Homo sapiens: one gene and its partner. The protein of the gene in region 2 interacts with the protein of the main gene of each other region in a biochemical or structural test. Each region holds a gene or a part of one and is shown on either strand. Other genes may lie near its edges.

Region 1 (3,816 bases), on a different chromosome or scaffold from region 2:
TCAATCCCTGTTTCCATGATGCAGTTTTACCTATTTGAACAAAAATTTTGATTAAAAGTGTTCTAATATATTATCTTATACAATATGGTTATCCTACAATATAAAATATATTGGCAATGTTAATGATTTGATGCATTTTATTAAGAGGACTGTGTGGAGTGATTATTTCAAACAAGTTAGGAGTCTTTTGGATTTTTAATCTTTTTGAGAGTAACACCTTTCTTCATTATTTGTTTCCCTTTCATTTCGTTCCCCAGGGCACCGAAGCCAAAGCACTGTCCATGCCGGAGAAGTGGAAGTTGAGCGGGGTGTATAAGCTGCAGTACATGCATCCTCTCTGCGAGGGCAGCTCCGCTACTCTCACCTGTGTGCCTTTGGGAAACCTGATTGTTGTAAATGGTAATTGGATAGCATAGTCATGGTTGCTGGTTTATGGATTCTTAGACGTTTCTTTCCAAATGTTTTATAGCCACTTCAGTGATTGGCTATCATGATACAGTTGTGAGTCCTTCTCAACTGTATTTAATTCCTAGGCCACTGATAACATGTGTCTGGAAGATCATGGAATATGAGGTTGTTGAGTTGTTTAGGCCAGCACCCTTCATTCTTAGGGCATCCATTTTTTTGATGTCTTAATCTTTGTAATATTTTGCTCTGGGGGATAATATTTAATATTATCCAATATTATCAGTATTTGATAATAGGAGTGAAATGAGCCTATTACACATGAACTCCTTGGAGAATACTTTTTCTTTATGCCTGTGGATGGCTTTATTTTTTTAACGAAGGTCTTGAACTGAGACATGGGGAGCTAGACCTGGGGTCACCATTTATCCAAGTTGGCATCCCTGTGACCAGCAATGCACAACAACAATGCTAAGTTTACTGGGGCCTTAGTAAGTATGTGTTTTATTTGCTGGGCCTCCCCCAACAAATGTCACTCTGTATGAATAACTTTTCCTGTTTATTTTTCATATTAAGAAATTTCACTGGAATAGCAATGCATTCCATCTCTGTGTTTTAGTTCAGGTACCACTTTGTTTCATATCAACTCCTAGTGTTCTGTCATAATCACACATACTGGAGATCCATTTGAATGACTAGGAGCTTTCATTTTTGTTCTGTTTTGTTTTTTGAGATTTATCCTTTTAGTTAGAAAGATAGCGTGGTAAGATTGGGAGGGCTGCGTTTGTTGTTTTTTTATTCAGTATAGCTCATCTTTTTCGTTTAGCAAAGGCAGTTGCTTTGGTAAGCCTTAGGTCAAAGGTTTAGGTCAGAGGTTTTCAGTATGTTCTGTAGCTACTCCTTTCTGCTGAGATGAAAGTTAGGTAGAAGCCCTATCACCACTTAAACCTTGAGCAGCAAAATGTTTATCTGTTTCATTTATTGAAGTTCTGTGTAAGATTCTGTTTGAAAAAATGTTGGTTTTTTTTTTTCCTGCTAAAATCTATTTTGAAAGCTACTGACTCATGCCATCTTGATCTTTGACATGTTGGATAGTTCTCATTCCCCTCTTACAAAGTTTCTTTTTTCTTTTTTTTGAGACAGGGTCTTGCTCTGTCGCCCAGGCTGGAGTGCAGTAGGCAGAGCATGGATCATTGCATCCTTGACCTCCTAGGCTCAAGCAGTCTTCCTCCTTGGCCTCCTGAGTAGCTAGGACCACAGGCGTGTACCACCACACCTGGCTATTTTTTATTTTATTTTTTGTAGAGATGAAGTGTCACTGTGTTGCCCAGGCTGGTCTCAAACTCCTGGGTTTGAAGCAATATTCCTGCCTTGACTTCCCAAAGTGCTGGGATTACAGGTGTGAACCATGCCTGGCCTCTTACGAAATTTCTATTTCTTTAGTCATAAGATTCTTTGAAATGTTATTTAAAAGTCTCAAAACTAGGTTTAATAGCTTTGGTGGTACTTCACATTTGTCAGGACATGACTGTCTGATGACACTAGGACCTAGCAATGTCTATTCAGCAGTTCATCATAATTAGCAAATGTAGCTTTTACTTTGGCATTCTTGTACACAGAGTGTCAACAGTTTCTGCCTTCATCTAATCATTCTGCTACATCACATCATAACTTGCAAGGTTGGAGTTACCAAATAGTAAATGTGTAGTTGCAAATTTTGCCTTGATTTTTTATAAAAGCACTTAATGACGTGTATAATAACCTCTATTCACTAGATTCAGGATACTTAATATAAAAAGAATAACTGCTGAATGTCTTGATGATTTCCTAATTTCTGATGTTTTGTTTCTTTACTGTTCTTGGCAAATCAGCTCTTGGCAGACTTGCATGGCAGCCAGCCGTTCCAGGATTGATTCTTTGAAAAGGAGCAGTGTGTCTTTAAATCTTTCCTTCACCCAAGGCATCCTGCTTGGTGCACATGTGCATAAGCACATCACTGGGCTCTTTCATGGAATGAGATGAAGTGCGCCTTTGTATACATGATTAAAATTGAACCCTCTGGTGATGTCAAGTATATTTATCCTTTGGGTCTGGAAGAGAGATGATGCTGTGAAAACTAGCAAGATTATTTTAATGAACAAAGGAAGACTCATTGCCAAGGGTTAAATAAAAAATAAATGGAGTTTTTAGTGACTTCATTAGAAATAATGATTTTATTGTGTTTAGTTGCCTCTGATTAACCTTGTTGCATATCTTTAAGTTACTAATAAGCTGCTGCCTAGTGGATTTTATATAAAGATGCTTACTGTAGTTTTTAAAGGTGGTGTTGTAGAGTGATTTTACTTCATGTGATGCCAGGTTTACACTTTTGAACTTGCTATCAGAGAAAGAAATAGGCGAAGAACAGTTTGTTTTGTATAATGTGTCCTTAGTATATTAGGAGCTAGGAAATGCAAGCCCATACTAAAAAAGAAAGGCAGTTGATGAAGTGACAGAATTCTTTATCATCTTTCTTTTGTTTATTTACAGCTACACTAAAAATCAACAATGAGATTAGAAGTGTGAAAAGATTGCAGCTGCTACCAGAATCTTTTATTTGCAAAGAGAAACTAGGTAATACAAACATTATTTAACTTTTGGGGTGAAACTCTGTGAAATTCATATAAGAAAAAAATCTGAAAGATAATGTTCAAAAGACTGAAAATTTCTATATGAGATTAAAGCATATTGAAGACAATGTGGTTTGTTTAAGAATGCAAAGGTTTAAAAAATGTGAAAGTTTTGCTTATAATTTGAGGAGTTTGTTTCTTTCCTGTTTTTCTTAGGGTCATAGTGTGCTGAATTATATTGTTATGAGATAACACTAGTATGTAATTTATTACACTCTGATGATAGTTCATAGTTTCTGTACTAATCTTTGGAGATCTCCCTATTGAGATCTCCATATTGGTATTTAACCAATATGGAGGGGATCTGTGTTTCATGAAAGTAATTCAATGTCAAGTTCATTATTGAAGATTATTGGAGGAAAAACTACAATCAAAATGTTTGTTTAAACCTATATAAATTTGATGGCTATTTTATACAGATTGATACTTTACCAAAGGTTTGCATTCTAGGTAAGGTTTTGCTTAAACTCTATAAAATTATTAATAGATACAAAGAAGACAGGTTTTCCCTTTTATCATTTTTCAGTTAAACCAAACTGTGAGAGGCAGTTATAGGTGGTTGGAGCAGAAGAGATAAGGTGGAGAGGGGAACTGACATTTTTTAAGTGCCTGTTTCATTCTGTACTTGTGCCTGTACATATGTTATTCCATTTAATCTTCTTAGTAAACTTAGGAGGGTTTTAAGAGCCTAGTGGGAATGTTGTGGTACAATGGGAAGATGGCATTTATAGCAGTCCTTTAG
Region 2 (4,526 bases):
AAGGTAGGATGAATGCTTGATTCTTTATCAGTTCTCAGATTGTAATGACTTGTTGGCATCTTTCCAAGAGGGTCAATGACATTAAAAAAAATAAATGCACTCACTGATTTTTTTACATAGTGCGTCTCAACCAGTTGCTGTTATTATTTTTGAATGCTAAATTTGTCCTGTTTGAGAAGTTGGGGCATCTTTGAACTGCCTTCTGAGTCTTTTGGGTACAGTTCATGTTATCTTTGCTTTTCTTCCTTGCTTTCTGCTACAAGCAATATGTCCTAGGCTATCTTGCATATTTCTTGCCCCTACTGGGAATCAGCACTTAACCTCCAAGAGAAGCCAAGGTAACTTTTTTTGGGCAATGCTCTTTAGAGATCACAATCTGGGGAATAGGAGTGTGCAATGGGTTGGTCACTGTTCTAAGAGTTTTCAGTGGACACACCTTTTTTTTCACGAAAAAAATGTACCATGAGTTAATTCTGATATTTGTAAATTCAAATATAGGATTGCAGAATTTTAATATAATGTCTTTGGTTTATATTTGTATTTCTTTTCTCTTATGGTGAAAAACTTGGTTCACAAAGATATATTTATATACTTTATACTAATTATAAATTCAGAAATATTCAGAAATAGTAATACCTATGTTATTACTGACGAGTACCGAAAACAGCTTAAGGTTTCTTCAGTTTTTTCCCCTTGGATTAATGTCTCCCTAGGAAGGCTTGGTCGATTTATTGTTTTAAAGTCAAATCATTTATTTTCTATGACAAGACACTTTAACTGCAAAATGTGCTTCAGTGTAGTACCTTCATTTAAGGAGGAGTGAGGTGCCATTACACCTCCGTGTGTGTGTTTTGCCAACAGTATCGAAGACGCTTAACAGAACAGTAGTAAGTTTTGCTTTACAAATTCTTACATTGCAGAATCGTCTGCATCAGCTATTTTCATTCATGAGATATGTGTAAGACCTAAACCAAAGAACATCGTTTCCCCGGACTGAGGAGGTTTGCGAAACCTCCAGAGACTGAACTGCTGACCTTCCTTCTCTGGGCCGGGCGAGGCAACTGTACCCAATACACTTTTTGTTGCCATGCTGCGTGCCAGGTTACTCAGCCGGGAGAGGACACTTCCTACCATCAATGCGCTCAGCTTGAAGCCAGAGACGAAGGCACCGACAGTTTATTATTAAACAATGGCAGCAGCGCCACGCTGAAGACACGAACGCGCTGTTATGGAACCCCCAGAGGTCTCCCCCATCGTAGCCTGCTCCAGCCGACTCCGCCCACGTAAGGTGCAAGGTTTCCGCATGAGAGCCGGGAAGCCACAATTTCAAATTCTCTTTTATTGCTTTATGTCCCTGACTCATGCAGGCCAAAGGGTGAGGAGGAGTAATAGCCAACAAGAGCGTCCTGCAGAAAGAAACAGGCTGCGTGGGTCCGGAGGAGCTTGAAAGGAAGAACCCGACCAAAGGGCAGGAGACCCGGCTCTCCAGGTCGCGGAGGCGTGGGTGCCCAGCCAGGCGGAGTGCGGGGCGGGGCCTCTCGGGCCGCAAGGTGGGGCCTCCTGGGCCGGGAGGTGGGAGGTGAGCTCCGCCAGCCCAGCCCACTGCAGACAGGTTACCCAGGACCTCAAGGTGTGCTGCGTCACCCCGCCCGCGCTGCGCTGATTGGTTCCTCCAGGGAGCCCCCGCCCCCTCAGCTGTAACCGGGCCGGCTTCAGTGTCGCCGCCATCTTTGTTGATGTGTCAGCTCCGCAGGGGTTTGGGGAAACGGCCGCTGAGTGAGGCGTCGGCTGTGTTTCTCACCGCGGTCTTTTCCTCCCACTCTTGGCTGGTTGGACCCCGCTATGGAAAAGTTGGCCCCTGAGCCAGAGCTCCAGCAGCCTTGTTAGGGCGTGGCCTGAGGCTTGGATAAGTGGGGTAAGTGTCTGAGGGGTACTCGGGGCACACCGGTGAGTCGCGGTGGCGGTGCGGTGGGGCTGCCAGCCTTCCGCTCCTTCCTGCACGTTCCGTGGCGGGGGCGAGGGCGAGTGCGAGGTGGAGGTCGAGGTCGAGCGGGCTCCCCGCCTGGCTCCTTTGAGGGCGCGGAGGAAGGGGAGGGCTGGGGAACGGGTTTCAAGCCCTTTCCTCTCCCTGCCTTCCTCCTTCGGTTCCGGGACCTTGGAGGTGGCAAAGAGGGGTCAGCGGGGGTCGTGGGGGCTGTGCCTCGAGAGCGTCTGAATTCGAGCCCATTGCCTGGGCTGCGTGTGAACTGCAGCCAAGCCCTACCTGCTCGAGAATCTTTCCTAGACTCAATCGCCTATTTCGTTTTTCGTCTCAAGTTGACTGTATGTGGGTGTTTTATATTTACTGTTGTGAAGACTTGTTACCCTCTTCCAAACACTTCCATTACTGTGATTCTAAGTTCCTTAGAAGTGATTCTTTGGAGTGGTGGATACTGTTCTTTATGTTGTCTTTCAAGGACGTCAAGGCATTTCATAAACCTTGGTTGGTAAGGAAGGGGTTTCAGATTTATGTCTCCATCAGTAATGAAAAATGGCAAAAACAAAACAAAAACCCTTCTACGTGTCCCTAAGTAGCAATCTTGGGAAACAGTGCAGGTGTGAGTATTGCTTAGCTGTTAACAGTTTAACAACTTCACCTAATATTCCCATCTTGATTTTGTTTAGAGGAAAAAGTCCTGGATTTCGAGTCAGAACATCTGGATTAGAATCCTACTTCTTTCACTTGATAATCTTGTTACCTGTGGAAATCAGAAGAGAGAATATAGTAAAAATACGCAGTACAGTCCCAGGTACTTGGCCGTTTTCTCTGCATGTGTGTCATGTTCCTTTGATGCCCAGCTTTTTTTTCTTCCAAAACGATAGGCCGGGTGTTGTCTTCTAAGGTGTTCAGTAAATCAGGGTTTCAAGAGGTGTGCTGGTAGTCATTCAGAAGAAATTAATCTGCTATTATCTATTTAGGTATGCTAGTTGTGGGTGTGGCTTTCCCAACTATCAAGTACACCTTAATATTTACCGAGTGTTCATCTCGTGGGAAGGATTCAGGTTCAAGAGAGATTGATAGTGAAACTGAACTATCTCTGTGTGTAATGTACACTGTTCCCTGTGTAACTTCAATTCTTTATCCAACATTACACAAATAAAAAACAGTAATGATTGGCTAGGTTCATTTTTCTCTTTTATTTCTGGTCTTTTCATGTTATTTTTAATGCAGTGAAGATATTAGATCACGAATCTTGCAGTATTAAGAATTAAAACTTTTTACAGCATAATAGGCAAACGTATGATTACTGAAGATTCTCCCTGGAAATGCATGGATTGTGTTTGTTTTTTAAAGGCCCTGTTAAATTCAGAATAACTGCATATAAACTTAAGGTTTCTTTAAACAGTGGAGATTCCATAGTGTGTCATTGGCTTTTGAGTCCTATTTATTGCTAACGGAAAGGGTTGGCTGGTGTGTATCACAGTGACCACTCTAACCTTTTAGTTCTTTCACCCATAAAGTAGAGTTGTCCTTTAATGCTATGCAGTGACAGCATAGCTAATGATTGCTTAGTATGTTCAGTTTAGAAACATCTATTTGCAGCTTTATGCTGACATCACAGAGTGAAGATAAAAGCATTGCAGTATACTGACTCCAGGAAGAGACAGTAGGTTGAAGCACAAAGCAGCTTTATTTGGAGATTTAGAAAATAATCTTTCCCTTTGAAGAAGGACTGGTAATCTGCACTAGTTTCTCAAATTCATGCAACAGTTTCGTGTTAAAGTAAGAATCCTTACCCTGAAATTTTTTTTCTTTTAGTAAAACTTAGGTTTTTCTTTTATCTCTACCTTAAAATAACTAAAGCTGGTTTTTCAATTTCTCATAAACATATCACTGAGTTTACAGTATTGCAAATGTTATACTTAGTATTCATTTTAGGGGCAGCAGTGAGATCATAGATAATTTAATCTATTGTTTCAAACTGCTTTGAACTTTCTTAGCTACTGAGATTTAAAAAATGTATTTGGGCTAAAAAGTAAGAAAAAGGAAAAATACTGAGATGAAGGGACAGTAGACACAAAGTGGAAATCAGCACCAGCATAGTTTTGATTGGATTGTGAGTGTATTTCTTATTAACATTTGTCTATCATTAAGACACTTGAACTGATAATTGTGGGATTATGTAGACTATGTAATGTCTACCGCACTTACTACATAATCCCACGGTAGACTATCAGTTCATGTTTTTAATAAAGTAGAGCATACCAAATTAACCAACTCTGGCCAAAGGTGTCTTCAAAATTTAAACATTAACCCAAACTTTTTAATGTAATGCAGGCTTATAACTTGAAAAAAAATTTTTTTTAAAGATACTAGGCTTCATTTTGTTTAGTTTTTTGAGACAAGATCTCAATCTGTCACCCAGGCTGGAGTATAGTGGTATGATCATAATTCACTGTAGCCTTGAACTCCTGGTCTCAAGCAATCCTCCTGCCTTAGCCTCCTGAGTAGCTAGGACAACAGGCACAGGCCACCATACTAATCT

The links.
Region 1: of the proteins of CCDC186 (region 2) and FBXO7, one has a biochemical effect on the other in vitro, tested with the Homo sapiens proteins (one large-scale study listed by BioGRID).

Annotation. Positions count from the first base shown.
Region 1 is NC_000022.11:32,484,811-32,488,626, forward strand, and holds part of FBXO7 (F-box only protein 7), read left to right. Parts: intron 1-257; coding exon 258-399; intron 400-2,934; coding exon 2,935-3,018; intron 3,019-3,816. UniProt on the Homo sapiens protein: Substrate recognition component of a SCF (SKP1-CUL1-F-box protein) E3 ubiquitin-protein ligase complex which mediates the ubiquitination and subsequent proteasomal degradation of target proteins and plays a role in several biological processes such as cell cycle, cell proliferation, or maintenance of chromosome stability.
Region 2 is NC_000010.11:114,171,404-114,175,929, reverse strand, and holds the start of CCDC186 (coiled-coil domain-containing protein 186), read left to right. Parts: upstream 1-1,726; 5' UTR 1,727-1,915; intron 1,916-2,664; exon of another isoform or gene 2,665-2,789; intron 2,790-4,526.